Linked DNA regions of Homo sapiens. The protein of the gene in region 3 purifies or fractionates together with the protein of the main gene of each other region. This does not show direct contact. Each region holds a gene or a part of one and is shown on either strand. Other genes may lie near its edges.

The links.
Region 1: the proteins of RPP30 (region 3) and RPP40 purify together in Homo sapiens (affinity purification with mass spectrometry; 4 studies listed by BioGRID and IntAct, with this or other methods). This does not show direct contact.
Region 2: the proteins of RPP30 (region 3) and RMP64 purify together in Homo sapiens (affinity purification with mass spectrometry; 4 studies listed by BioGRID and IntAct, with this or other methods). This does not show direct contact.

The regions. Positions count from the first base shown.
Region 1 is NC_000006.12:4,993,568-5,001,420, forward strand, and holds the end of RPP40 (ribonuclease P protein subunit p40), read right to left. Parts: intron 7,065-7,853; coding exon 6,996-7,064; intron 6,338-6,995; coding exon 6,242-6,337; intron 5,275-6,241; coding exon 5,149-5,274; intron 2,854-5,148; coding exon 2,655-2,853; intron 2,519-2,654; coding exon 2,384-2,518; intron 1,710-2,383; coding exon 1,511-1,709; 3' UTR 1,150-1,510; downstream 1-1,149. UniProt on the Homo sapiens protein: Component of ribonuclease P, a ribonucleoprotein complex that generates mature tRNA molecules by cleaving their 5'-ends. Also a component of the MRP ribonuclease complex, which cleaves pre-rRNA sequences.
Region 2 is NC_000003.12:113,016,023-113,023,984, forward strand, and holds the start of RMP64 (nucleolus and neural progenitor protein), read right to left. Parts: upstream 3,650-7,962; 5' UTR 3,626-3,649; coding exon 3,520-3,625; exon of another isoform or gene 3,496-3,519; intron 3,388-3,495; exon of another isoform or gene 3,044-3,387; intron 1,581-3,043; coding exon 1,426-1,580; intron 1-1,425. UniProt on the Homo sapiens protein: May play a role in cortex development as part of the Notch signaling pathway. Downstream of Notch may repress the expression of proneural genes and inhibit neuronal differentiation thereby maintaining neural progenitors.
Region 3 is NC_000010.11:90,888,663-90,896,694, forward strand, and holds part of RPP30 (ribonuclease P protein subunit p30), read left to right. Parts: intron 1-6,112; coding exon 6,113-6,229; intron 6,230-6,791; coding exon 6,792-6,821; intron 6,822-7,217; coding exon 7,218-7,255; intron 7,256-7,650; coding exon 7,651-7,730; intron 7,731-8,032. UniProt on the Homo sapiens protein: Component of ribonuclease P, a ribonucleoprotein complex that generates mature tRNA molecules by cleaving their 5'-ends. Also a component of the MRP ribonuclease complex, which cleaves pre-rRNA sequences.

The sequences.
Region 1 (7,853 bases), on a different chromosome or scaffold from region 3:
CCTTGAAACTCTCCGAGTTCCTCCAAAGACAATCTGTTTTGCTTCTGCCAGTTACCTGTAAGGCAGTAAAATCCTGTTATCACTTGAAATTTCCCTCTTGAGATTTTTTAAGACTATCCAGGTGGTGCAAACAAGCCACCCTAAAAACTGCTGTTATATATAAATCCTGTGGTTATATATAGGCTCTCAAGTAAGATGTTTTCCCCCAGGACAGAAATCTTCCTTGCTGTTCACAGGGGTTGGGGGGATGGGTGAAGCAGATGGATTTATTCCTAGTTTACCCCTACATTGCATCTATCCTTTTGGAGTCTCACTTTATGAGGTCTCCTGTTAGTTTTCCTCCCTTGGGCAGGCCCTGAGCTTTGTGTGCTGTTCTGCAGCCCCTTCCCACCCCAGGCTATGAGAAGAAAACTTCAATTTGGCATTTGGCAGATGCACTAAGGCGGAAAAGTGGCGTCAGTACTCCACTTACTTCTTTGGGTTTCTGCTTCCATTTACAAAAAAAAAAATTTTTTTTTCCCTTTAAGAACTCTTATTTTGCAGCTCTTGTTTTTTACATTAAAAAAATGGTTCTTCAGACAAAAAACCAAACACCGCATGTTTTCACTCATAGGTGGGAATTGAACAATGAGAACACATGGACACAGGAAGGGGAACATCACACACCGGGGCCTGTTGTGGGGTGGGGGGAGGGGGGAGGGAGAGCATTAGGAGATATACCTAATGTTAAATGATGAGTTAATGGATGCAGCACACCAACATGGCACATGTATACATATGTAACTAACCTGCACGTTGTGCACATGTACCCTAAAACTTAAAGTATAATAAAAAAAAAATGGTTCTTCATATGTATTCTAAAGTTTTAGTTGTTTTCAACTGGTCCTTATCAGCCTTACTGCTGGAAATAAAATTCTTTCAACCTGTTCTGTAACGATTTACAGTATCCATTGATCCCTCTCTGATCCAGAGGCATTAGCGTGAGAACACACTTAGGAACTAGGCTGGCCTGAGATCAAGTCTCAGGTCCACTGCCACTATAACTTCGGTAGTGTATTTACACACTGTGCCTCAGTTTCCTCAAAGGGTTGGTGTGAGATTCTAACATGGTAATATATAAACAGCACTTACAACAGGGACTGGCCCTGGTAAGGATGAGATTTCTTTTTATTATCTGAAAAAGTTGTAATGAACAAAATATATCTCAACCAATGGAGTGAGATGGGGACCAATATCCCCGGTCCCTGGACATCCTGGCCCAGTGTACCACATAGTAACCCACAACCCTGTGCTTATGTTGACAGAGAGAAATCAACTATGAGCTATTCACTGGACAGCAGGCCTTGCTGCCATCACAGATGGGTCTCAGGTGCAGGGCAGGATGCCAGCAAATGCTGATCTGAGAAATGTCACCATCACACAAGCCTGAGTGGACACACAGACCTTTTACCATTAAGAAATCTGAAAGCAAGCGTAAATGTAAGTAAACACGATTTTTAATTTTTATTTTTTATGGTGGACAGTGATCATTTGCCCCAACAGCCATCTGAAGCCAATAGTCCTGATTATTAAAAATCACAAAGTTATATAAATGTTCTCCTCCTTTTCGAAAACCATGTTCATTTTTTTCCCAAGAAACAGGGCTGTCTGCAAAGCCTTGAACGGACAGTGTAACCCATGGAGCTAACTTCGGTTCATCAAAGTAGTGACTGAAAAAAAGGTAGTTGTTAAACAGAGTTTTAAAAGAGAGTTAGGAATGTCTGCATTTTAAAAAATTTATTCAGGATAAGTAGTATTTCTGATATTCTAATAAAGCTTAGATCTTAGCTTTAATTTTTGAAAATCAAGAGGTGTGTGATAAGTTCCTGATGTCACACTGTGAACTCCATAAGGATTAACTAATATACAACACATGAAACAAACCTCAGCTGTTCCCACCCTCATTCTGGGAGGTCTTTAAGACAAAAAGAACCCAAAACAAAAAACCCCACAGGCGTTTAAGGATCCTTTCCCTCCTATTAAGAGTACTGTTCTCAGAGTCTCAGTTAACTGAAACGTTGCAGGATAATTCACCAGATTTTTCATATCCAGCCTTCCTATCGAAGAAAGTCAAAGTACTAAACCAATAAATGTGAAAAAGGATGTTGGGCTTAAAAAGGAAAACCTTCAAGACTTAAATCTGACATTTCAAAAGGGAAGACTGAGAAGATATGCTTACTAAATAGGATTATACTCAATGTACGGTCTTTGCAATAGGCGATTTGAGTTCCTTTCAATGTACATTTTATTTATATACCACCTCCCAAAATGAAAAAATCTATACTATTCGACATACTGTTCTATAGAGCACTGATGAGCGATATAAAAGGTAAAGAGTTCTCACCAGAGATGTTCCAATAGGAGACAGATCTTCTCTGGAAGTATGAAGCCAGTGATTGTACACAAATAAGCTTTTGCCACCACTGTGCTTGGCTCAGGACAGCAATAGGTTGATATGAAATTATTAGGCTCATTATTTCTGTCACCAAAAAAATAAAAGAGAGAGAGATAACACATGTATATCCATCACATGATCACTTCCAAAGTATTAAACTCCTATTAAAAACAAGCAGCAGGCCAGAGCCCTGGAAGACACAGGGAGTTCAGATACCCACAGGTCGACATTACTGAAGACGGCGCCGAGCCAGTCGAAGAGCTCCAGAGCCCGGCAGGACACCTCTGGCGTTCCCTCCAGCTCGCTGCTCTGCAGCACTGGGCACTGGAGATCTCTCAACGTGCTCAGTGCTACTTTTGGCTGATGCTCCTGAATTTGGTACTTGGAAAAATATGACATCATTGTCGATTCTTCTGAACCTTAAAAACACACCACACAAGGCCATTTGAATCCATCTGACCATCGTAAGCAAGTTTAGTGAATACCTGAACCCACCCATTCCCATCTGAGCGGTAAGATTGAGTAAGATGGAAGCTGTGCAGAGCTGCATTCAAATTAAAATCATTTAAAGCTGCTTTCAGCTCCTTTTGCTCAAGTTCTGTAAACGTTCATCGTTTTTCACACTTTTCCTGGAAAAGCACAACAGTTTCTGATCAGACCCAAACTAGTTTCACTGTTTGTGCTAATAAAAAAATTTCAACTTCACACTTAAAACCAAAAGCATTCCTGATGTATGAATAATATTAGTGAACTCCAGAGAGAAGGAGCTTATCTGCACAACCTCTATTAAAGAAAAAGAAGAGAAACTGAATGGTGATTGAACCTCATCCCAGCTTGACTTTGAAAACCCAATAAAATCCAGCGTATCTTTTCAGGGATGTTTGTGTAGCCAACGGCCTTGGAAGACAGAGATAGTACTCCCTCCACGGCAAAGGGCAGGCTTGCTTACTGTCCAGTATAATAGAAATAATGTCACCCTCCCTCTCTCCGGGCAGATATCAGCAGGCTTACTGTCCCTTACAAAGGACTGGAGTTCTTAAACTCCAGGTTCCTCTCCTGTAATGCAACCTACTGCATGTGCCAGCATCGCTTGGTGTCACTCTGGAAATGGGACTTGGTGAACTGGTGCAAATGGTGATATTCGGTGTGATGGTTAATTTTAGGTGTCAACCTGACTGGATGAAGGGTCATCTAGATGGCTGGTAAAGCATTATTTCTAGGTGTGTCTGTGAGGGTGTTTCTGGAGGAGACTGGCAGGTGAGTGGGTAAACTGAGTGGGAAGATCTGCCCTCACTGTGGGTGGCACCATCTACCCGGCTAGGGCCCCAGGTAGAACAAAACGTCAGAGGAACAGTGAATTCGCTGTCCCTTGGAGCTGGGACTCCCTTCTTCCCCTGCCCTTGGACAGCAGAACTCCAGGTTCTCTAGCCTTTGGACTCTGGGGCTTGCACCAGCAGATCCACAGGTTGTCAGGCTTTGGCCTTGGACTGAGAATTATACCATCTTCTTTCCTGATTCTCAGGCCTTCATATTTGGACTGAGCCAGGCTACCAGCATCCCTGGGTCTCCCACTTGCAGACAGCCTGTCGTGGGACTCCTCAGCCTCCATAACTGCATGATCAATTTCCCTAATAAATCTCCTCTCATCCATCCATCCATCCATCCATCCATCCTATTGGTCCTTTCTCTCTGGAGAACCCTGACTAATACATTTTGGCTACTACCATTCCTCTGAGGAATTAAGTCCTGTGTCTCTGACCCAGGGCTTATGTGTCTTCTGCCAGCATCCCTGAGACTGTAGCAGGCTACCTAGTTAGCCTGCAAGTATGAGGAAATCTCAGAACTTTCACAGTCCTGACAAATCCTTAAAATAGTTAGGAGCTTTAGGAATAGGGAGCTATCCAGAATCCAACGTCTGGATGATCTGCATAGAAGACTTCACGCAACTGAAACTTCAATAAGCCTTTCTGCCCTCTTTTCTATCTACCATATATGGAAGGAGAGGCACCGAAGGCCAGACCTAGGACTCATGGGAGCAACTTGGAGCACCCAGTGACGAGACACTTCCCATGAGGAGCAGACAGATGGGGCTATTTCTAAAACAGACCACCATGCTTCCTATCCTCCAAAAGAGAGTACTACACCATAATTCCTGATGACTTGATCCATTATTATCTGGGTCAAAGATACACTTCTAAAAGGAGCAACATACATGGCCGTTTTAGGCAGATTACGCTGTGTGGTGAATAGCAAACTTTGAACTAAATTTAGTGTCCTAATCAATTAAAAGTTAGAATAAATTCATCTGACATTTAATGGTAGGCCTGAGTCAGTACCCTGTGATAATAAATAAGCAGATTGTGTATATAATTGGTGCTACTTAAAAATATTATAGTCAAGGCTGTTCAAGGTAAGCTGGAGAGAGGAAAGGGGAGAAATAGATAAAATTTAGCTGCTCTGAAGCCACTCTCAAGATCTCTGGATCTACATATAACCCAAAGAGACGCAGGCAGAAAGGCCTGCGTGCCTACATGATCCTGAACTATGGTTTTCAGAGATGTCAGAAGGGCTAGTTTCCTTAATAATATTTTTATATATACGTATAGAATATTCCTTGACTAAAGAGTGAATCACCATTCAATCCTCCATTACTCCTCTTTAATTAACAATTACTTTCAAAATCACTGTATCATTACATAATTTATTCCTCATACCTGTTTTATGCCAAGCCAAAAGAAAATCAAATTTCAATGGCTTCTTTTCTTTGAAAGACCAAGATATTCTTTCATACTTCTTAGAATCCAAGTTTAAGGATAATTCCATCAAATCAATGGAAACAACTTTAAAAATGAAAAAAAGAACATATATTTCATTCATATACGTACAGCTTCTACCATGGAAAAAGTGTTACATTTTTAAAAACTAGAATTTTGGGAAATTTTATGGATAGTAAAATTATTTTATTCTTCTTCCACTCCCTTTGGTTTGCCAAATAAATAAGATCCCTTTGGTGGGCACTTCTAACCTTGAGAGCTAATAAAAACAGACATTTTCAATTTATATGTTTCCTAGGTCAAAGACCAAGGGCAGAGGACCTTGAGAGGTCAGGTTTAATCTACTTATGGATGTGGCGGCCTTAGCTATTGATGTTCGAGCCAGACGCTGTCAGCAAAACATCTCTTCACTCATGGGTGAATTTCTACTAGTAATCATAAAGACTTGGGGAAACCAAAGGAAATTCTTTATTAAGAATAAGTTGTAGACTCCTATCTTGGGTTCAGTACTTGGAATTTTTTTTTTTTTTTTTTTTTTTTTTGAGATGGACTCTCACTCTGTCGCCAGGCTGAAGTGCAGTGGTGCGATCTTGGCTCACTGCAAACTCCCCCTCCCGGGTTCAAGCAATTCTCCTGCCTCAGCCTCCTGAGTAGCTGGGACTACAGGCATGCGCCACCACGCCCAGCTAATTTTTGCATTTTTAGCAGAGATGGGGTTTCGCCATGTTGGTCACAATGGTCTCAATCTCTTGACCTCATGATCCGCCCGCCTTGGCCTGCCAAGGTTTAACCCGAAACATATATATTTAATTGACCAGTCCAAGTCTACAATCTTTATTAAATGCATCTACAGCTGAAAAGAAATGAACTTAAAAGCATCATCCTATCCTCTGTGAAGCTCGAGTCAGAAGTTTGACAGATTTTTTTTAAAAGGCCACATTTTTTTGAACAAAGAGATTAGAGGCAATTCAAACATTTAAATTTAAATTGCCACAAGAAGATTAGAAACAGATGGAACACACATGATACTTACTAAATTTCATAATTTTTCTGCCAGAAAACTGAGATGGATGACCCTGAAGTCCAGTTTCTTCATAAGTGTCTTTATCCAGTGACAAAATTAATTTCCCTATAAATCAAATAATAACTCCCATAAGATACCAAAACTAGAACTTACGTTGTCTGACTAAAAGAAAGCAAGGCAAATTGAGCAGTTAGATATCAATGTAACAAACTGCATACAAGGATCTTATTTATATCACAAGAATATTATTTATGTGTATACATGTCTTGTAACAGATATTATTTATACATTATACATCCAAGGATATTATTTATAATAGTGAAATTTAAAATAATCTGAATTTCTACTAAAGATGAAATAAATAAGTCATGGTATACTCATTCTTTTGAATATCTTCTTTTTTTTTTTCAGACAATCTCATTCTGTCTCCCAGGCTGGAGCGCAGTGGCGCAATCTTGGCTCACTGCAACCTCCGCCTCCCAGGTTCAAAGCGATTCTCCTGCCTCAGCCTCCCAAGGAGCTGGGACTACAGGCATGAGCCACCACGCCGGCTAATTTTTGTATTTTTAGTAGAGGCAGGGTTTCACCATGTTGGCCAGGCTGGTCTCGAACTCCTGACCTCAGGTGATACACCTGCTTTGGCCTCCCAAAGTGCAGGGATTACAGGCGTGAGCCACCGTGCCCAGCTGACTTTTTTTTTTTTTTTTTTACAGTATGCATTTTTTTTTAACAATTAAAGAAAGATGAAAAAATAAAGTGTTACCATTTGGTAGCAGGGCAACAGTATTATCTTCATCAATATGTGTATTGTATGTTAGTGCATAGCAAGAACCTGGAAGAGAAAGTACAGAGGAAAAATTTAAAACAAGAAATTACACCTGCAAGATGTTAGTGGATTATTTTTACAAGATAACCAGTCTTCCGGGTCATTAAAGGTCAGTTTCTACCCCTGCTCCAGCTCACTCAATAAACCAAACATCTGCTAAGGGTAAGCTGCAGCATGCAGAAGACCAAGCATGCAGAAGACCAAGCATGCAGAAGACCAAGCATGCAGAAGACCAAGCATGCAGAAGACAAAGCTTGCAGAAGACCAAGCATGCAGAAGACCAAGCATGCAGAAGACCAAGCATGCAGAAGAACAAGCATGCAGAAGACCAAGCATGCAGAAGACCAAGCATGCAGAAGACCAAGCTTGCAGAAGACCAAGCTCCAGCTAGTTCACTCCCTGACCAACAGCCTATTTGTGCAAGTTTACTATCATCAAGCAAAAAACTGACTCAGAACGGAACGTGACCTTTGGGGATGCGCGGAGAGGGGTCCAAAGTAGAATTCTAGATAAACATACACCTCTCAGAGACAGAGTTCCAGGTTAAGATTCAAAAGCTACCCAACCTCTCCAAGCCTCAGTTTCCTCACTGTTAAATGAGGATCATAGGCTTGCTTCATAAAGTTGTTGCAAGGGTTAAATTTGGTAAGACATTTAACAGTGCCTGCTACAGCCATTGTCCACGTAATTCACAGAGTGGTGTCAGGCCTTGAAATAGATGAAAGGAATAACGGTGATGAGACCAGACAAGATGCCCAGCTCATAAGTCGCCCCAGCAGTGTCAGAATGAGAGGA
Region 2 (7,962 bases), on a different chromosome or scaffold from region 3:
TACAGGACCAGGTAAGCAGACTCAGAAGCAGGAACAAACATAGTGAGCATGCAGGTGTGTTGAGTCCAGGTTGGCTGGAATATAATCTATCTGAACGCAAGAGAGAAGCCCGAACTAAGAAGACTGAAGAGGCCAGATCACAGATCTCGTAAGCCAAACTAAGAAGTTTGGTCTTTACTCAGGACACAATGGAGAACGACTAAAAATCAAAGTTGTGTTTTCAGATGATTAACCTGGTTTTAATATTTAGAATATGCCAGAACTTAGGAAAAGCTGAAGGAGGAAACATCAGTTATGATAGTAAGACAACTAAAAGTTGACAAGGTCTAAGAAAGGAAAATGGCAGCCAGAACTGAAGAGGGGACCAGATGCAGAGGAAGTTTTGTCTTATGGACTGCCTGGATGGGAGAGCTACGTAAGAGAGAGAGACTAGAGAATGCCAAATTTTGATGACGGGGTGATTATTCACAACCCAGAAGCTAGAAGGAGAAATATATTCACTTTGAGGGTTAGCAAGCTTGCTTTTGGATCAAAAAGACTCCGAAAAAGATAAAAGCCACCCTAGAATGGAAAATTTAGGGAAAGACCATGGTCCCAGATCTTTCTTTGATGAAATCTTCACCCTGTTTGCTTTAAGTACTAGGGGTAGAAAACTAACCAGAAAGCATGCATCTATAAGGTTAGAGACTGTGTCTACCTTTTTCACTCCTCTATACACAGCACTAAGCAGAATGCCTGGCACACAGAAAGTTCAAAAACACTTGCAAGGTAGCCCTGTCACACAATGGATAGCCTTCTGAACTTCCAGAAAATACTTGCAGAATTAAGTGAATGAATGAATGAGCATATCAGGAAGCCAGCTTAAGAGAGGCTCTACTCTATGGTATAGCCCCTGAGCTGGAGGGCCCAATTTTGTCTTAAGCTCCAAACATTACATGAAACCAGTTTACACCACAACTTGCTATGTACCCATTTACTCTAACATACCACCAATTAGATTATGTACCCCATAATAAGTAGACAAGTTTTTTTAAAAATAATTTTAGCATTCTGATTATGCCCAGGGAACTGTTTCTTAATGTCCAACATTTTGTCTTGCTCAAATCACTTTATCTTTGAGCTGGGCAAAGGCACTGTTGTTATAGATTGTATATAATGAAGAAAATGTTTACTTGCCTATTAGAAACAAGACTGGGAAAGAATCTAAACATACTTCTTTTCTAACAAAAATTACTTTTTGAAATGCTGAAATGCTTTTAGGAAAAAAAAAGAAAGTGCACATGTAACTGTGGGCTATAGGCCTATAAAACACAAGTAATTTACTGAGATTTCCACGAGATTTCCATAAATAGCAATATAGTAAGTGGCAGTGTGATCTACATTTTCAAGTGAACAGGTTGGGTCTCACCTACCGGGCTTCCTCACCTGTTTGAGGGCCAAATGGGGTTTGTGGCGGCCCATTCTGTTGTGATTGCTGTAAAGGACTGCACATAACACATCTGTTTCTGCATCTAAGGTTTGGCTCTTCAGCGACAGTATGACGAGATGGCATTCTTTAATTACAGCTGCAATGCAAAGGTCTGAAGCAGAGACATCTAATAAGATTTAGTATGTATTTCTACAGTAAGTATATTATATTAAAAACACACTAAAAAAAGCATCTTTCCTTATTTGTTTTAAAGGAATCAAAAACTAATGTAATCAGTCTCAACTGTAAGAACGTAAGGATTCTAAGTATAAGAGAAGTTGGAAAATGGTAACAGATGATATAAAGTCCAGGAAATCATTAAGAGAACATCTGTAAAACAAGAAGCTGTATCTTTGCATTGCATTTTATCATGGTTTAATAATCTTTCATATGAATACTTTGCTGTCAGTCATTTGGTGTACACTTACGCCTCATGTGTACACTTAACCCCCACCTTGAAGGTAGGGCACATGTCACAACATGTGTAATAACTCTCTAACTCCCCATGTCGCTATGCCCGAAAGCAAGACAGAATGAATAAATTCACAGTCTTCAAAATCAAGGCTTCTGTGTTTGGATATCACTTTATGAGAGACACAAACATATTCAGAAAAGAAAAACCACCACAGTAACTGGAAATCGTATTATTTGATGAACACCGGGTGCTCATCAGCAGATGCTTCCTAGTCTGAAAATCTGTAGAAGTCCCTAAGATGTAGTTCATGTGTTATTTATGGCTCTAAAGGCAGCACTAGCATTCTAAATGGAAGTAAAGGCTGGTTGCTACCTAACAAGAATTTTCTTACTGTCCCAACAACTACCTGAAGACAGAATGGGCTGCCTCGGGGATGGGTAGTGAGTTGGTGAATTTCCCAGGCCTAATAGGAGTTGTTAAAGAATTTTTGAATAGAGAAAGAGGGAAGATTAATCTGTAAAGTGTGTAGGAAGGATAGATGGGATAATCTGTAAAGTGTGTAGGATGGATATATGGGAAAGGGGATGTGATGATCTAAGTCAAGCTTGTCCAACCCGCCTTATTTTGTTGTTCTGTTCTGTTTTGTTTTAGGCTTTTTGCAGCTTAAAGCCATGGTTTTTAGTTTGTCTCTAGTGAAAAGAGGGATGAGGAAAGGGCTTTACCAGCCCAACCGGAAACAAAGAACCCATGACTGTATTCTCTCCCTTGGGCCCCGGAGCTACGTATTTAATATTCATAACAGCTTCCATTTGAGTGTTCATTTACCATGCCAGGCAGTGTTCCAAATGCTTTCTCTACATTATCAACTCTTTCATCCCCCCAAACAGCCCTATGAGGAAGGTGCTTTTATCTCCATTTGAAAGTGAGATCAGTGAGGCACAGAAAGGTTCAATGACTCCTTCAAGCTCCAGCAAAGGGTAGAGCTAGTATTCAAACCCAAACAACCTGGCTCCTGCGCCAGGCTCCTACCTACTATATGCCCTTCACCCTAACAAATACCACCCATTTAGGTGGCAAAACACCGTCGTTTACAGCGCACTGTCTCCTAAATTACATCATTAGATATTCCCAACGCCCCTGTGAGGAGTAGGAGGACTAACTCCATTTCACAGATAAGCAGATAGAGGTCCGAAAAGATTGCAGTTTGAGTCCCAGTGCTTAGGTGACGTCCACCGCTCCTCGGGTACAGGAAAAAGAAGGAAAGGGGAAATGGACGGAAGGGTAAACAAGACTCCGAAGACCCGGGTGAGCAAGGGTTCCCAGGCAGCACTGTTCCCCGGCACCAGCTGAGTCCACCTCTCTCCGCCCCCTCAGCGCACGGCTGAGCCTTGGTCTTTCATCTCTCCAGCCAAGCCCTGGGTTAGCACAGCTGGTTCAATGAAGGAATGCGAAGCCAGAGGCCCTACAAGCTACACCAGCAAAGTGCTGGGACCGCTCGACCCCTACGTGCCCCGCGCCCCTTCCCAGCGTCCCCCGGGCCGGGAAGTCCCGGTACCACCCCCGCCCACATGCGCCGGCTGGGCCTGGCGGCCTCCCCCGGAAACGTTCCCCCATCCTCGCCCGGCGCCTCACTCACCAAGGGCCGCGCCGGGGTTCTGCACTGTCACTGCGCTGCGGTTCCCCGCCTTAGGGATTCTCACACGGTTCCACGGCTCCAGGCCCGGCGGCACCGCAGCCATCATGCGAGGCGGGGGGACTTACGAAAGGCGGAGCTACGCGAGAGCACGTCCAGCGACCGGAGGTGGGGCGATGGGACCCAGTCCGGGCCGGAAGGGAGCAGGGGGTGGGGCTCGGGCGGGGCCAGGAGCCCGGCGGGAGGCTGCCTTCATCGAGTAAACGCGTGGGACTGGGAAGGACCCAGTCATCTGTATATTGGTTACCAACACGTGGCCGCGTAGAATCATGGGGGAAAAAAGGCCCCATCCCAATACTAACCAACAGAATCTCTGAGAATGCGATGAGGAATCTGCGTTTTGTTTAAACTTAGCGCAGGGGATTCGGAAGCACAACCAAGTTTGGAACTGTTAAATACTTCTAGGCATTTTACAAATATGGAAAATGAGGCCCAGAATTGAGTTGGTGCTTTTACCCCCAACTCTGCCTCAGACATTAGGGGAAAAAGGAAGAAATGAAATGAAGAGGTTTGTGCAAGGTGTGGAATTTGTAGCGAAGAAGCAGTGATTTGCTTTGAGTGGTAAAGGAAGGCTCCTTTATGTCTTGAACCACAGCAAAACCGAGATCACATCAAAGAAACTTGGAAGACACCTGTCAGTCATTCCCACTTTTGTCAGTCTCCAAGACAAGATCATATTCCAAGCTCTAGTGATCCTTACCTCATTAATATCTTTCTAATAATTCATTTATCCTCAGCCATGCTAATGCCCCCTTAAGTTCTTAACACTCCCACAGTAACGTATTAGAAAAACAGTGAGTTTTGGAAACAGACTGCCAAGGTTCTAGTTCTAGCTTTGCTGTTTACTAGCTCGGTGATCTCAGGAAATTTACTTACCTCCTCCTCCAGACCTTAGTATCCCTGTGGGTAAAATGAAGATGATAATAATAGTATCAATCTCACAGACTTGTAAAATGCCAAGGCACTCCTGGCATACAAACAATGAACATTTACCATAGTTAATATTGTTGATGTTATTACTACTATTTCATGCAAGCAGTCTTACTTTATTGAAACACTTTCCATGCTCTTTCTGTGCGCCTTTACACATCTACCTACTCTACCTGGGTCATCCTCGGAAACACAATCTCCTTTCCTCAGCTCTGGGGTCGTCACTTGGGGTAATTCTTCCTAAACACCCCGTCCTCACTCCATAACTTGATACAGAGGCCCCTTTAATGTGTTACCACAGTGCCCTATGTTGGCCTATGTATTAGTTTTCTATTGCTGCTGTAACCAATTACGACAAACCTAATGGCTTGAAATAAGTAGAAGTTATTTTACATTTCTGGAGGTCAGAAGTCCAAAATTAATTTCAATGGACTGAAGTTGGCAGGGCTGGTTCCTTCCGGAATCTCTAGGGAAGAATTCATTTCCTTTCCTTTTCCAGCTTCTAGAGGCTGCCTTCATTCCTTGGCTCATTTCACTATCCTCCACCTTCATTGTCAGCATGACATTTTTCAGTCTCCTCCTCTTCCTCTGTCTCTCTCACCCTCCTGCCTGCCTCCCTCTTAAAAACACCCTTGTGATTACATTGAGCCCATCAAGATAATCAGGATAGTCACTCCATCTCAGAATCTTTAACTTAATCACATCTGTTTTAGAACTCCAAATTCAGGCTCATGTACCCGATGGGCAGCTGATGCCAAATATTGAGATACTGGTGCTTGGAGACAGAGAAATATTTATTCGATTTGACCAAAGTTAGAGGGCAAGAGAGCAAGATCTCTCAGATCCACAGTAACAAAAAAGAAGCAGGGAGTTTTTATGGAGCTAGAGAGTAATGGAGAGGGAGTTTCAAGGAATCCAAGGGAAAAGTCTGTGTTTCTTCCATTTCAGGTAACACCTTGTGCAGCCGTATGTACATGGCAGCTGGTTGCAATGTCCTTCCAGGAATTCATTCCTTCTGCAAACTATTCTTATGACCCTGAAGTTATCTCCTTCTGCTTGACAAAGAAACAGTACATCAGCAGTTTATAATTACATTGTGGGAACAAGGAATACTGGGCAAAAAGCGAGTGGTTAACATGTACAAGCAAGCAAGGGCCTGTTCAAAATTTTCATTATTTCATGCACACACACACACACACACACACACAAAAATGCTGGGGTGCTGAAATCTCAAGCAGCTGAAATCTCAAGGTTATATAGCTACAAAATCCCTTCTCAGTGCAAGGTAACATATTTACAGATTATGGAAATTAGCATGTGAACATCTTTGGGTGGGAGGTGGAGGGATCTTTATTCAGCCTACCACAGCCTCTCTCACAGAATTTACCTCGCTTTATTGTATTTCTTTGTTTACTTTCATGTCTATTTCTCCAATGGCATATGAACCTACTGAAAGCGAGAACTACCATTGACATAGCTAACTGGTCTTTCTATCTCAATGCTTAGTTCAGAGCCTGGCATATAGTAGGGCCTCAGTAGATATTTACTGGCTGTATATGAGGTTGGATGATGCTTGAATAGAGTCTTTTGAAGGATGAATAGGAACTCCCCAGGCAGTTAAAGGAAAAAGGATATTCCTACAGAGAGGTTTTAAGCAGCATGGGTTTGAAGAATCACTAGTCCTGAGTTGGTACTGCTGGGACGTGATTTGTGCTGAGGGGTGGAGCTGGGAATAGTGGTGTCAGTCAGATCATGGGAAGAATTTGGCTTTTTACCTGAAGACCAGTAGTTCAGAAACCTGGCTGATTATCAAAATTGCCTGGATAACTTAAAAATAGAGATTTTCAGGTCCCACTTGAAAATTCTTACTCATTAGTTCTGAGTAGGTCTGTTTTGAAAAGGTCTTTGTGATGGTACTCTAGGTTGACGTGTCCTTGCTATAGGTGATAAAGGAGTCACTCACTGAGTCTTAGGCAGAGCAATTTTTGTCAGCTTGCCTCAGAAGAAGAGCACCCTGGAGAACAGATTTGGGAGAGAAGAGGTTGGAAGTAAGGAGACCAGGCCCATCTGTTCTATTACAAAAGCTAAGGCCAGAAATGATGCAGACCCAAACCTTCAAGCATTTCTACTGGATATAGACAGTATGACTTATTTAGATGTCTAGCATGGGTGGAGAGTGTCCCTTATCTGAAATGCTTGGGACCAAAATTGTTTCAGATTTCCGGTTTTTTTTAGATTTTGGAATACTTGCAAATATACATGAGATATCTTGGGTATGGGACCCAAGTATAAACATGAAATGTATGTATGTTTCATATCTACCTTAAACACATGGCCTGAAGAAACTTTTATGTAATATTTTTAATAATTTTGTGCATGAAACAAAGTTTGTGTACATCTCAATCACCCATGTGGACAGTCTGTGGTTGTTTGGTGTCAACATCATTCCTGACTCTGAATTTATATGCTACTGTTTTTTTGTTTGTTTGTTTGTTTGTTTGTTTGTTTTTTGAGATAGAGTCTCACTCTGTTGCCCAGGCTGGAGTGCAGTGGCACGATCCCGGCTCACTGCAAGCTCCACCTCACAAGATCACACTATTCTCCTGTCTCAGCCTCCCGAGTAGCTGGGACTACAGGTGCCCACCACCATGTCTGGCTAATGTTTTTTTGTATTTTTAGTAGAGACGGGGTTTCACTGTGTTAGCCAGGATAGTCTCGATCTGCTGACCTTGTGATCTGCCCGCCTTGGCCTCCCAAAGTGCTGGGATTACAGGTGTGAGCCACCGCACCCAGCCTATATGCTGCTGTTAAGCAACCATTTTTTTCTCTTATTCACACATATGTGCTTAATAGTAAAAAAAATGATATACCATTAATACAGTGAAAATTAATGTGTTCAGGGTAACTTGTATCATCATGTCAGTACTCAAAAAGTTTGGCATTTTGGAGCACTTCAGATTTTGGATTTTCAGTTTAAAGATGCTCAACCTATTTACATATTTACATGTCTAGAATGATGATATGGTTTGGGTCTGTGTCCCTACCCAAATCTCATGTTGAATTATAACCCCCAATGTTGGAGGAGGGGCCTTGTGGGATGCAATTGGATAGTAGGGGCAGAAATCTCCCTTGCTGTTCTCATGATAGTGAGTTCTCAGGACATCTGGTTGTTTAAAAGTGTGTAGCACCTCCCTCTTTGCTCGCTTGCTCTCCTTCTCTGGCCATGTAAGATGTGCCTGCTTCCCCTTCACCTTCCTCCATGATTGTAAGTTTCCTGAGGCTTCCCCAGTTGTGCTTCCTGTACAGCCTGCAGAATTGTGAGTCAATTAAACTTCTTTTATTTATAAATTACCCAATCTCAGGTAGTTCTTTATAATAATGTGAGAATGGACTAATACAAATGACTTCCAGATTTTCACCTTAAGTTCGAAATATGACATTCAGAAGAAAAATAGA
Region 3 (8,032 bases):
GCAACATGAGGAGGACAGTGGCACTCAAGACAGTTGACACCAGGACACCCCACCCCCTGATTCCATTGGGAAGTTCAGGAAAGCTCCTTTCGTTTGATGGGCATTTTTCGCTTAATTCCTACATTTTTCAATTTAAGAATTCTGAAAAGTAAAAAATTCTGTCAAGTGAGAGGGATATGCAGTTTAACATGGTGTCTGCTTTAAAAAAAATCTGGTGTGAACATTTTGCATATGTTGTTTAATAAAAACTAGATGATGGAGTGGAAAGAAAGGCTGCACAAGATTATTTTTAGTCTTCATCTAGTAGAAGAGTAGGCTGCACTGTGAATTGGTCAGGAAGCAGAAGAGTCCCTGTTAATTTATTCACCTATTTTTTATTAAAGAGAGAAAGTTGGAAACATACAGGTGTCTAGCTTGTTGTTCAGAGTAAATAATAGTTGTGGCATAGGTATGTATGTATTATTTGTAACATAATATCCAGTCTGGCTGTGGAGCTGTTTGTCTACATAAAGTATGGAAATGTATACATTGTGAGAGCACAGTCTTGGTCCTTGCATGTTCCCTTGGCTTTGAGTGTAAACTTGTTTTTGGCCTTGAGAAGTTCATAGATTGGCTTTAAAAGGATCACTTTATAAGGATTACTTTTTTTTTTTTTTTTTTTTTTGAGACAGAGTCTCGCTCTGTCCACCCACGCTGGAGTGCAGTGGTGTGATCTCGGCTCACTGCAGCCTCCGCCTCCTCAGTTCAAGCAATTCTCCTGTCTCAGCCTCCCAAGTAGCTGGGATTACAGACATCCGCCACCACAGCTGGCTAATTTTTTTTTTATTTTTAATAGAGTTGGGGTTTCATCATGTTGGCCAGGCTGGTTTTGAACTCCTGACCTCAAGTGATCCACCCGCCTCGGCCAGGATACTTTAAATTAAGCACAGATCTTAATTTTGTCACGATGTGGGCCCTTTTCTTTGGTTGTGGTGAAAAGCAGTATTAAGAAAGGTAAATCATTCATCTTTTACCAATAGGCCAGATGCCATGTGAGAATCATCAGCTTGGAAGGTTGGGATTGTGAAGGAGGGCCCAGGAGCTCTATAGCATACCAAACACTCCATTTGTGTACTTTGCAGCTCTTTTCCCTTTTGTCATCTTCACTGTATGCTTAGGGCACCATAATTTCAATTATGCAATTTCCTCTAAAATCTCCCACAAACCTCTTCTGGAGTCTAAGTAACTTGTCATCGCATTTCTGTCATGTGATAGATGTGTTTCTAAAAAATTGGATTCCACTCCTTTTCTTGAATAATCACATGACTTCAGATTATTTAGCATTTTATGACATAAGCAGTTTGATACCTGCTTTGGCCCAGCAGTTTTGGGATGGGGTAGATGTTAATTATCTCCATATGCAGGTAATACAGTAGAATCTTAGGTAGTTCATGGTTCACACAGTTAAATGACTCTCTCAAGGGGTTGACAAGGGATTTGTACTCAAGCTTTGATTCCAAATCTGCTGTTATTTCCTACTGGGAAATGCTTTTTAAAGTTACTTTACAGCAGAACTCTTTGTTAAGCACAGAGTAATTTCATATTTTAAAACATGAGCTTTATGAATTCAGGTTGTGAGAAGAAGGATGTTCTTAAAACAGCACGTATCTCTTTACTTTCCCTTTGATTTTTTTACAATGTTATTTCCATTTCAATGTTATTGTCACTTAACAATGACTTCAAGCTTATTGAGTTATTTTAAGGGATCTTATATGTTTTACACTCTCTCTGATGTTTTCCCCTCAGTCCTTCCTTTAACCCTAATCCATTTCTGTCTTCGTGGTCCGATTACTCCCCACTGAGAGATGTTTAGTAAGTAGTATCTAAACAGTGAGGTAGTTCCATGAATCATGCTATAAATACTTGATTTGGATGTGAGTGTTCTGTAAACTTTGTTTTATCACACATGAATCTAATGTGTTAAGTACTGTGTCCATTCAGTGCCAGCAAATTGTGCCAGTATTAAAAATTTCTGTGGAAAAAAAAAATGCAAACAACACCAGAAACAAGGTTAAAAGACAGATGACAAACTGATGGAAAATTTTCACTCATGTCATAGACAAAATGCTTATTCCCTTAACACATAAAGACCAAAGAGTGCCTAGAAATTAATAAGTTAAAAAAAAAGATGAACAATACCAAAAAATGGATTAAGAATATGAAAAAGGCATTTCACAGTAAAGGAAATGCAAACAGGCCTTAGACATATGAAAAGATGATTAAATTTATCATAGTAAGAGATTTCACATTAAAATCACCTGTGTGATTAGAGATACACTCTGTTGTAAGGCTGCAGGAAAGCAGACATTCTCATATTTTGCTCGTAACTGTGTAAATGAGAACAGTCCCTATGCGGAGAGTGGGTAATTTGGCAACAACTATTCAAATTACAAATACGTTTACTGATTTAAACAACAGTTTTAAACTGTATGATCTCACAGTTCTGAAGCCTGCAAGTCTGAAATCAAGGTGTCAGCATGGTCTTGTTCCCTCTGAAATCTATAGGACCACCTTCCTTGCCTCTTTTTAGCTTTTGGTGATTTTCTGGCAATCTTTGGTAATCCTGGGCTTGCAGCTACGTAACTCCAGTCTCTGCCTTTGTCTTCAGTGTGTTCTCCCTGTTTGTCTCTATGTCTTCACATGGCCATCGTCTCATAAGACACCAGTCATATTGGATTAGGGGCCTACCCTATTCCAATCTGACTTCATCTTAACTAATTACATCTACAGTGACCCTATTTCCAAATATAAGATTACATTCTGAGGTACTGAGGTTTAGGGCTTCATTGTATCTTTTGTGGATGAGGACGCAATTCAACCCATTATGCCTAGCAATCCCACTTTAGTGTTATTCTACAGATACACTGAAACCACCCAAAGGCTCTCAGTAGAGGTTTGGTTAAATACATGCTATACCTCTACAATATGATACTCTACAACTGTAAAACAGAGGAAGTTATGAGCTGACTTGGAAGAGCTTTCATGTCAGGACAACAATGCAGCAGACTACCTTTTGGATAGGAAAGAAAAATAGTATCTCTTCGTATTTGCTTATAGTTGTATGAAGAAACTCTGGAAGAAGACACAAGAAATTAATAAAAGTGATTATTGGAGGAAGGGATAGGGCAGATAGGATTGGAGATGCAAGTAGTACTTTTTATTGTTTTCTTATGTTGCTTTGTGAGTCATGTGGACAAATTACCTGTCTTAAACACTGAAAGGGTTTCATTCATTTGAATTGAATAAAGAACTAATTTTTATGAAATTAACAGGGAATCAGTATATTGTCCCAGTAATCAGCTCCTTACTTTCTTCTCGTCTTTCTCTAAGGCTTTGCTTAATACTTGGAATTTTAGTACCAATGTATCTTGATTCAACTGTCACACACCTGTCCTTAGTAGCATCTTTATGACCATTATTTTTCATTAGTAAAGAAATGTGATCATCCACCCATGCCAGAACCTTTGGTCAGACATGAGAACAAAAGCTAATCAGGCAGGCACTGTTAGGAAGAGGCTGTTAGGAACAATCATTTGATGAGCTTTAGGCAATTTGCATCAAAATGGTCTTACAGCAAGATCCCAGGTAATGAGTCTGTATTTTATCCATCTAAAAATTTAAAATAAGATGCTATGAAAGAAATATTCACAACCTTCAATAGCACATTATTTTTAATTTTTCTTTTTCAAGAATTCCTATAGCAGTTTTAAAGTGAACTTGATTAATGTACCAAGATGAAAATCAGAACTTTTTCCTTAAAAAATAATTATGCTGATAATATCCTTTTTTTCTCCCCTCCCCCCGCAAAAGTTGTTTTTATTTTGATTTGGTACCCACAAGGGTCTAGAAATTTAGATTCAGTCAATTAGGAATATTTCGAGATCTAAGCATCCAACTCTATATATCATTCACCTCTTTCATTTATTTCCCCTCTTCATCATCCTGTTGCCTTGTATTATCGTTCCACAACTAGAAGGATAAGGAAAAGAAATACAGGTCAGCCTCTTCAGCTAATTAGTAGTTTTGGTAAAATATATAGCCAAGGAGATGGCTGATAATATGGCTAAAAGGGATGTTTTTACTTATCTGTGGTTTTTGGTTAGCCAGGTGCACCGAGGTTCCTTTGATGATGGATCATCTATAATGAACAACGTTATCACAGGACATCTTCTCCATAAGCTGCTATTTATTCACTCAAAATATAAATATATTATACACCTTTTATGTAAAAGGCAGTCTAGCTCTCAAGAAGTGTGCAAGCTTGGCAGAGCCAATGAGATACACGTTCAACTAGGACAGAAATACTATCTTAACAAATGTCATTCCCAGAAATAATCAACACAGGTGAAAGAATTAGAGATGGGGAAAAGTCAAAAAATGAGAGAGGGAAAGGTTGCAGTGTGGAAAATAGCATTTAAATTCTAACCAAACTAGAATCAGACATATAGGAAAATCTAAAATAAAATCTGGGAGCCTTGAAGCCGGAGGAAGAATTAAGGAAATCTGTGTTCGGGAGGGAAAAGCAGAAGGGGCCTTCAAGTACAACTGAATTAAATCAAGATGGACTGCCAGTTCTAGAAAAAGACAAGTTTCTCCATTCCCCGTAAATGCTCAGGAGTAAACCCCAGTAGTCACAGCTGGGCCAGTCCCAACTTATACTCTGGGCAATCGAAACTCATTTGCCAAGCAGAGACTTGGACCATACTGCCTAGAACATGCCTACCATTCTTTCTTTATTCTTTTGAAAGAGTACTGCCACTCAAGTGACTTTTGCAATTGAGAGTCTGATTATCATCTCTATGCTGAAAATCCTTCAGATGTTTTCTCCATTAGGAATAATCCTCATCACCAGCTCTAAAGGCCTGCACAGTTGGCCCTTCCCATCCTCTTTAGCCTGTCTTCCTCATTATTTTTCTCCAGCATTTGACCTTCCCTACGTGCTGCCATGCTGCAACCTTGAAGACTTTTGCATGCTCTGACCTCCCTCTGAAAGTGCACCTTCCTCTACTATTTAACTGCTTAATTTCTTCCTCAACCCTAAACTTCTCCTTGATAGCACTTAACACAGTTGAAGTTTTGTATTTTTGTGTGGTTATTGATCATCTCCCCCACTAAAATGTAAGCTTTTAGAAGGGAGAAACCATCTCAGCTTTTGCACGTAGTGGGCTTAAAACATCTTTTGTGAATGGATGCAGACATTTAGGTGCTCATTAGGAAAGCTGAACAGTATGGTGGTTAATTTCAATATCATTTCCACTCATCTACTTACCTGTGGATCCCTCTGTAGTAAGAGTACATTAAATAAAGAAGTTTCTGTTTCTCATGAAAAAAGCCAAGCTTGTATGGTGAGCTGGGCAAAATCTTCAAGGGCACTTCCATCTTTTTTGCTGTGCGGCTATAAGCCCAGTGAAAAATCAGGGGCTTTATTACTAAAGAAAAAGGAGAGGACAGATATCTGGGCAATTTGCAGGCTTTGCAGTAATGCTTTATAAAGGTATTGTAGTAAGGATTAAATATTATATATAAGACTCTCTTAGCATATAGTCAGCACTCAATTAACTATGGCTGTTATTCTCTCTTCAACATATAGAGAATAAATTACTTACCTGAAAGACCTTCCTGCCCTTGGTTCTTTGGGCTTTTTTCAGCTCTTCATTTCTTTGTCTCTTTGTGCATTCATAGGTCAGATTACTTGGTTTACTATGTTTGTATACAGTTTACTGTAAATGTAGGGAGTACATTTCTGTTTTCCTTTTGATAGTTCATGGAGTAGTAGCCCCTCTCTCACGCCATTGGGACTTTGTTCTTCTTAGCCTCTTCATAATTCCTGTTTATGTAAAGTCAGCTTCCCCACAGCCAAGTTAAACTCTCTTAATCAAGTAGAGCCACGGATTTATTTTCTTCTCCTTGTGGGTGGTGCCATTTGAGTGTTGATCTGTCTTTCATAAAGCTGTACCTTGACATGTAAGGGGTCAGTAGTAGGGAGTGAGGAGGGATGTGAAGAGAGAATCAGTGAAAATGAAGTAGGCCAGTGCATGCTTATCTCTGACAGTTCTCTTTATTTCCTGTGAAGGCGATTGACCGAGGCCTGGCTTTTGAACTTGTCTATAGCCCTGCTATCAAAGACTCCACAATGAGAAGGTATACAATTTCCAGTGCCCTCAATTTGATGCAAATCTGCAAAGGAAAGGTATGGTTCTATAATTTTAGGATGTTTTTCGCATCTGGCAGTTTATTATTAGTAGTACACTGGAATTGTCAAACTGACTCCTTTTCCTTAAAGCAGAATGTTCTCATAGCATAGGAACAAATTCTGCCATTTCAGTGAGCTCTGCAAATTTTAAGGGAAAGAAAAATACCAAGGGAAGAATAATGTAAGGGAGAAAAAGATGTGTTGGAAGCCATATCTTTTGATAAAAATTTGCAATTTACATACTGTGAAAGAAAAGTCTAGAATAACAATGGTCCTCACTGAGTTGAATTAAGATATGTGACCTTTTCATCTTGTTTTTTAAACTTAATTCACCTTTACTAAGATCTGTTAGGAAAACATATTTTGTTTTTTATTACAGATTGCCTTTAGTTTGACATGAAGTCTTTTCATTTTTTTCACCTTAATTATTTACCTTATCTTTAAAAGAAGTTGGTATTTGAGCCTTAAATGTTAAAATATGATTACTGGCTATTTATATTATGAAACTCCTTTTTTTACATTTATCTAAGATTAATATTAGTCACTTTCTATTTTGTAGAATGTAATTATATCTAGTGCTGCAGAAAGGGTAAGTCTAGCATGAAGTACTTTGTTTTCATCTTTCAGGTTATAAAACTTTTCAGTTTCTAGGGGATAAATTAAAATAGTAAATGAATATTTGTTGCATTTTTTTCTATTTTAACTGCATTTGCTCATTGTAATTGCTAAATAGTAAAATTTATCCCCACTTTCTTTAGGCTTCAACTTTTGTTTATATAATCAGTTTTTCTTTTATACTGTTACAAAATGCCTTTCAAGCTTCTCTTATATTTTCAAAAGCTATGAAACCCATCAAAATTATAAGGACTTAAATTTATGTAATTTTTTTATTTTTGGATACTTAAATTTTCTATTAATTTGCTATAAGTCATTGAAATGTTATAAATAATTTTCTCATATCTACTCTTTGTTCATTTTATTTCAGCCTTTAGAAATAAGAGGGCCATATGACGTGGCAAATCTGTATCCTTTTCTGAGTAAAAAGTTGTTGACATTGTCTTTCAGGAAATTTTGAATTTGAAGTCGTATTATAGTTGAACATGTATTTTTCTCAACCTTTTACTGTAAGTTTACCAATTAATAACTTCAAAAATAAATTATATAACATTATAGAGAGCTTTATGCTTCTGTTTTTTAATTAATCATGAGATAGAAAAGAGGGAATGAGGGACTTCATATGATAAAAGCTTAGAGTTAAATGAGTCTTTTCTCAGATGCATGTTCCAGTTGGACTAAGAACTGCTGTTGAATTAATTAGCCTCTCAAGATGACCAGGTTAGCTGGCACTTTCTGTTATGTTTGTGTTAGTCTCGTGTCCTTGGGTGACTCTGGGTTGAAATCTTTAATGCTCCCCCAAGAGGCTTGCTGTTTGGGCTCTCTGAAAGTGACGCCAAGGCTGCGGTGTCCACCAACTGCCGAGCAGCGCTTCTCCATGGAGGTAAGCAAGTTCTTCCAGTACAAACTGAATGGTCATGTTAAAAGCAAGTCATTTTTACAGCCATACCTATTTTTATTGCCCTACCCTACAGAGTTCCTTTGGGATCATCTTTTCTCAACCTGTTCTAAACACAGTCATCAGTGTTTTCTCACCCTCACTTCAGGCTTTACTTTCTAAAGTTTGTAGAATGAATATAGTTTTCATTACAGAAATAAGTATTGAATAGTTCTTCCAGCTATACATGTGTGCTCCTGCCGACATTTTGATAGGCTTCTAATCTCCCTTCCTTCTTCTCCCTCACC